2 linked regions of the Homo sapiens genome follow. Changing the gene in region 1 together with any one later gene gives a genetic interaction. Each region holds a gene or a part of one and is shown in the gene's direction. Other genes may lie near its edges.

Region 1 (3,665 bases):
TTAAAGTTATTTTCAGACCCCCTGAAATTGTCCCTCGTTACATAGCAAACGAGATAGATGGTGTGGTTTATCTGAAAGAACTGGAACCCGTTAACACTCCCATTGCGTTTTTCACCATAAGAGATCCAGAAGGTAAATACAAGGTTAACTGCTACCTGGATGGTGAAGGGCCGTTTAGGTTATCACCTTACAAACCATACAATAATGAATATTTACTAGAGACCACAAAACCTATGGACTATGAGCTACAGCAGTTCTATGAAGTAGCTGTGGTGGCTTGGAACTCTGAGGGATTTCATGTCAAAAGGGTCATTAAAGTGCAACTTTTAGATGACAATGATAATGCTCCAATTTTCCTTCAACCCTTAATAGAACTAACCATCGAAGAGAACAACTCACCCAATGCCTTTTTGACTAAGCTGTATGCTACAGATGCCGACAGCGAGGAGAGAGGCCAAGTTTCATATTTTCTGGGACCTGATGCTCCATCATATTTTTCCTTAGACAGTGTCACAGGAATTCTGACAGTTTCTACTCAGCTGGACCGAGAAGAGAAAGAAAAGTACAGATACACTGTCAGAGCTGTTGACTGTGGGAAGCCACCCAGAGAATCAGTAGCCACTGTGGCCCTCACAGTGTTGGATAAAAATGACAACAGTCCTCGGTTTATCAACAAGGACTTCAGCTTTTTTGTGCCTGAAAACTTTCCAGGCTATGGTGAGATTGGAGTAATTAGTGTAACAGATGCTGACGCTGGACGAAATGGATGGGTCGCCCTCTCTGTGGTGAACCAGAGTGATATTTTTGTCATAGATACAGGAAAGGGTATGCTGAGGGCTAAAGTCTCTTTGGACAGAGAGCAGCAAAGCTCCTATACTTTGTGGGTTGAAGCTGTTGATGGGGGTGAGCCTGCCCTCTCCTCTACAGCAAAAATCACAATTCTCCTTCTAGATATCAATGACAACCCTCCTCTTGTTTTGTTTCCTCAGTCTAATATGTCTTATCTGTTAGTACTGCCTTCTACTCTGCCAGGCTCCCCGGTTACAGAAGTCTATGCTGTCGACAAAGACACAGGCATGAATGCTGTCATAGCTTACAGCATCATAGGGAGAAGAGGTCCTAGGCCTGAGTCCTTCAGGATTGACCCTAAAACTGGCAACATTACTTTGGAAGAGGCATTGCTGCAGACAGATTATGGGCTCCATCGCTTACTGGTGAAAGTGAGTGATCATGGTTATCCCGAGCCTCTCCACTCCACAGTCATGGTGAACCTATTTGTCAATGACACTGTCAGTAATGAGAGTTACATTGAGAGTCTTTTAAGAAAAGAACCAGAGATTAATATAGAGGAGAAAGAACCACAAATCTCAATAGAACCGACTCATAGGAAGGTAGAATCTGTGTCTTGTATGCCCACCTTAGTAGCTCTGTCTGTAATAAGCTTGGGTTCCATCACACTGGTCACAGGGATGGGCATATACATCTGTTTAAGGAAAGGGGAAAAGCATCCCAGGGAAGATGAAAATTTGGAAGTACAGATTCCACTGAAAGGAAAAATTGACTTGCATATGCGAGAGAGAAAGCCAATGGATATTTCTAATATTTGATATTTCATGGTGGAATAACACAGAGAAATGTTTTAACTGACTTTGGATCTTCATCACCTAAAAAAGAGTGTGTTGATGGCAGTTCCAATGAAGGACAACTAATTTATAACTTGTTCTATATTGTAAATAGCTGTTTACAGGTTTTTAAATTTAAATTCAGAGGTTATAAAATGTGTACAGCATTTTTAAGTGAAAATTAGTACTAACAGCTATAGGACTTGTATTTAAAAAAAAAAAAAAAGCTTGGACATGGTTTGCAGCTTTCATACACCAAGCAGATGATTGATAAAACCTGGGAGTAAGGTAAGAAAAATGGAACAAATTTTTATCTAAAAATTCCTGTCACCACAAGAGGGCATCAGCTGCTCCTTTGCAGGAAACTGGGGTATTGTACTTGGCAGTTGTACATGAAATTAATGAAAGAGTATATTTTAAATATATTGTTTTTAACATTAAACAAATATGAAATTAAAGTAAATTAAATTTCACCCTATTTAAACATATGATAAAAAAAGAAATGCACTTGTAAACAGAATGTTTATTACCTCATAAGTGCATATATAGTGTGAAAGAGAAGGCATTAAAAAGAAGTGCAATTCCTTTTTAGCAAGGATAAAATCATTGCCTTGTGTTACAGATTCAGCCTGCTGAAGAGTATTCCACTTTCTGTGTACTCGAATTGCTTTCTGTTTGCTTTACCACTGCACTTGTTATTATTACAAGGGAAATAGATTTATACATACATATATATATTCTTCATTACAGGAAATGTAACTAGATATTGTGCCCAAGAAAAACAGCCAGAAGCAAAGAAATGCTTCAATCTTTAGTTGCTTCATAGGCATTCATGACATTTTAGTGCTTTCACAACTTGTTGGTCGTACTTTATACTTGGGTTATATATTAGACTTTTATAGGCTTGAAATCATCCATCACATAAGAAAATAGAAATCATATTAAAAGTGAATTCTTCTAGAGGCTTGTGTACACTACTGGTTGTTTTAGTTGGGCCTTTTATATGAAAGTTATACTGTACTTATCTTTTTGTTGTTGTTTAGGTTTGTTGACTACCATTTCTGGCTTCCTTTCTTTGGTTTTGGATTAAATCCAACAGTTTATTTGTAAGCCCTGCAGCAGATTTCTTTGATAATTTAGCTTTTACTGAATCTCTTGCAATGAAGAAAGCTATTTCATCAGTGATTTATCACTTTCAATTCATTGTGTGAGCTGGAAATATTATTTTATATGAGAGCTATAGCAAAATAATCTGTATAAACAAGGAATGTGTTAGCTTAAACTGGATCATTTTACTTTTTGGCATCATGCATCTGTACTGTACCAAAAGTGTTTATATGTCTGCAAATTAAAGGTATATATTTTCATAATTTCTTTCTCACTTTTAGCATTTTATATTTGAACATGGGCTTGTTATTTCACTGAAGTGCCTGTCATTTGTTTGTTTTTAGGGTTAAATGTGGGTAACCTGTAGTATTCTGCTATACTAAAGTTTATATTAAATGAATTCATTACTCAATTAAACATTGGGTAAATTATTAAATGTGTGTGTAGTTATAGACATATATATAGTAGAAAGAGAGTATGCCTAAATGTTTGATGTAAGTTCATATGAAAATTTGCACCCATGTATGTGCACATGCATATTAATTTATTATAGATTTAATATCATTATAAATTTTCATTTTACTACAGATTTATAACAAATCCTCTGTTAGCTGTGTTGCAATAGCTTGCAATAATTTTTAAAACAAAAATACTCTACAAAAAAGACATTGAATGCAAACAACCAAGTTCTTTTAGATTTGTATTAATTAACTCATTTATCTTATTTTTCTTCAATTTGAGAATTTCAATAAATAAAATAATAAGTATATGAGGCAGCAATGTTTGTTACAAAAAGTAAATATATTTTTATTGGAAATTCCTTTTGTACGAGAGGCATCTGAGCTAAGAGACTAAGATCATTTAACCCCCAAAACTTTTCATTTATAACTGATATGTAGCAATGGAGGAAACATCTCTTACTAGTCATATTTTATT
Region 2 (3,175 bases), on another chromosome or scaffold:
CAATATATAGGAAGACTTCATACCTGGAAAAAAAATTTTTTTTTTTTAAAGAATCAGACAGCTGTGTGTGCCTCATGTTTAAATCTGTAACTTAGAAAGTCCCTTGTTTCCCAGGGCGACCTCCGGCGGATGTGGTCTGAGCCTTTCCACTCCAAGTCCAGCAGCTCCCGATTCCTGGAAGTATGATGGATCACGTGGAAAGTGACCAGATGGCCGTCATAGTCCTTTTCTCTCAACTCATGGTTTGTTTCCTCTTAGAGCTGGCCTGGTACTCAGAAATGTACCTGTGTTTAAGGAACTGCCGTGTGACTGGATTTGGCATTTAAAGGGAGCTCGTTTGCAGGAGAGAGGTGCTGGAGCCCTGTTTGGTTCCTTCTCTTCCTGCGGATGTAGAGGTGGGGCCCCTTCCAAGAGGGACAGGCCTCTCCCCAGCGCGCCTTCCTCCCACGTTTTTATGGATCTGCACCAGACTGTTACCTTCTGGGGGAGATGGAGATTTGACTGTTTAAAAACTGAAAACAGCGAGGAGTCTTTCTAGAACTTTTGAACACTAAAAGGATGAAAAAAATTAGCAAACCGAAGTTTCTTCAATGACCCCTCGAGAACTTTGGGACCAGTTTCCTATAGGGGACTCAGTTTCAGAGAACTGAGACAGAAGCTCTTCTGTCGTTATATTCTTCTTTCCTTTTTTTGGATTTATTAAATATTTTCTGTGGTGTGAAGTGACTTATTAAATCCACAGACATTGAGTGACTTCTTACAACATCCACATAAGAATTTGTTGTAATGAGTTCATGTCCACCCAGATGTTGTGTTGGCAGTGAACAAGGGCACGGTTTTTATACATACGTACATATATATATATAAACACACACATAGATATATATGAATAAACAAAAATGAAATCCTGCTAAGATCACGCTGTGTAGCTGACAGGGGCTTGCTGTCGTTTTGAGCATGTCGAGCAGTTTACTGTGGCTTCCTTGTATATGGATAAGCTGCTGTCCTTCCCCTTCACAACTGACCCCGCAGTTACAAACTAGTATAGCATTTGTGCTGATTGATGATAGACTCATGGACTTCAGGAGCCCTTACTTGGTTTTGATCAGTGTAGCAAATTAGGGATGAAGAGTTCAAACCTTTTGGCCCTTTCTTTCTTTTCTAGGCTTCTCCCTCGCAGGGTGTTCCGTAGTTTCTTCTCGAGCCAATGCATGTATTATAGCAGCAGGTGTCTTTGTGCTTTCTCATCATAGTAACGTACTACTTGTAAATACATTTTTCTATTTTCTATTTTTTTGTATTTTTTTTTTTGACATTTTGTTTCATTGGTGTGCTGTATATTTTCCATGCCCTCACTCCTTTAAGAAAAAAAAAAAGGAAAAAAGCAACACAATCCTGTCCTTGCTGTTGTGATTATAGTCTTGGTTTACCTGTGGTGACAACCGGGTGTTGGGGACACATGTCAAATGCCCCTCTGAGATGGGCCCTAAATTCCAGTAACTGGGGAAAGAACCAGCTGCTGTGTCCTGAGAGCCTGGCCCTGTGCTGTGGTCTCTGCTGCAAGCCCAGATTTCTGGGAGTAACTAGTGTTAGGTCTGCTGACCTTTACCTAAGCAGCCCCTGCCTGGTAAGAAGGTGCCCATTGTTCAGAGGCAAAGAGAAGCCTGCGGTTGGCATGAGGATGCCTGACAACAAAGGCTGGAGAAGGGCCCTGAGTTCCAGCCTCTCCCCAAGGGTCCCCGCCCCAGTGGCTGCCTCTGTCTTGACCTGTGTAATGAATTAGTGTGCTGTGTCACTGTGGCTTGAAGTCACTGTGGATCGAGCTCACAGGGGGCACCCATCCTGTTGTCAACAGAGTCTGAAGCAGTCAGGGTGTTGGATTCCTCTGTTGTTGTCATCAATTCCTGCTGAGGGGTTTCTGGGGTTTTGTTTTTAATAAATGACTCCTTTGTAGCCTTTGTCACATAATCTTCACTTTGGTTGTTGGTACCAAACAGAGCTCCCAGCCATCTCCTCCCTGTTCTGGAAGACTGATGGGAAGACTCTGTCTGTCCCCAGACCTGGTCATCTGCAGCTCTGGCCCAGTCATAGATACATCAAAGAACTGAAGCTTCTGCTGTCCACAGAACTCAAAACTGCCTCTGCATTGGGTGAAGACTAAAAATCCACTTGCGGACTCTCCCTTCCTTCCTTCTCAGCCCTCGAGGATGCATATAGCTAATTAAGCAGGCCCAGAGACAGAGAGGGGGGCTCCAAAATGACTCGGATTAAGGGCAAGTGCCAGTGATGGGTAGAAATAACGTTATCCTTCATGCCTGTAATCCCAGCACTTTGGGAGGCCGAGGCAGGTGGATCACAAGGTTGGGAGCTCGAGACCAGCCTGGCCAACATGGTGAAACCCCGTCTCTACTAAAAACACAAAAATTAGCTGGGCATGGTGGCAGGCGCCTGTAATCCCAGCTATTTGGGAGGCTGAGGCAGAAGAATCGCTTGAACCTGGAAGGCGGAGGTTGCAGTGAGCAGAGATTGCGCCACTGCACTCAAGTCTGGGCGACAGGGTGAGACTCCATCTCAAAAAAAAAAAAAAAAAGGAAATGTTATCCTGGCAGTGGGTCATTTTAATTTTTCTGTCTTTGTTTTCATAAGAAAATTAAATTCCAGACAGAAGGAACGTCGTTATTTTGTCATTCTCACTTCTGTGCAGGTTTTGGGGGGAAATACCCACACAGGGCTGTGAATGCACCCTGGATTCCAGTTGCTAATCTTCAAAGCCCTTAAAACACTCCCTTAAAACTTTGGCAGAGAAACAGCAAATACTCTACTCGTCTCGGAGGGTTGAGTGGGTGGCTGCAGTTAAAGCACACATTAGACTTCCCTTCCAGTGCTCGTTTGCTCCCCGCTGCCTGATACACTTAGGTCCGCCTCTTATTCTGTTTTCTCAAATACCATGGTTTAGGGGTTTTCTAGGAAGTCTGCTGCATTAGGCATGGCATGCTCATGAAATTTCAGCAGATTCCTTCCTCACTGATCTGAAGTCCTTTTTCCTCACAAAGAGACTGTGTGTTACTAGAACTCCCGCTTTTTAATAACTCTTTTTTCTAGTTTGAGCTAATGAAGATATGACAGTAAAGTCTGTCCAAAGCCTAGTGTGTTCCATTGCTGTTATTACAGTGCA

Evidence for each region.
Region 2: changes in PCDH20 (region 1) and SPPL3 together harm fitness less than expected from each alone (positive genetic interaction), as found in Homo sapiens cells (one large-scale study listed by BioGRID).

The regions. Positions count from the first base shown.
Region 1 is NC_000013.11:61,409,185-61,412,849, reverse strand, and holds the end of PCDH20 (protocadherin-20 precursor), read left to right. Parts: coding exon 1-1,607; 3' UTR 1,608-3,165; downstream 3,166-3,665. UniProt on the Homo sapiens protein: Potential calcium-dependent cell-adhesion protein.
Region 2 is NC_000012.12:120,762,010-120,765,184, reverse strand, and holds the end of SPPL3 (signal peptide peptidase-like 3), read left to right. Parts: intron 1-114; coding exon 115-186; 3' UTR 187-2,675; downstream 2,676-3,175.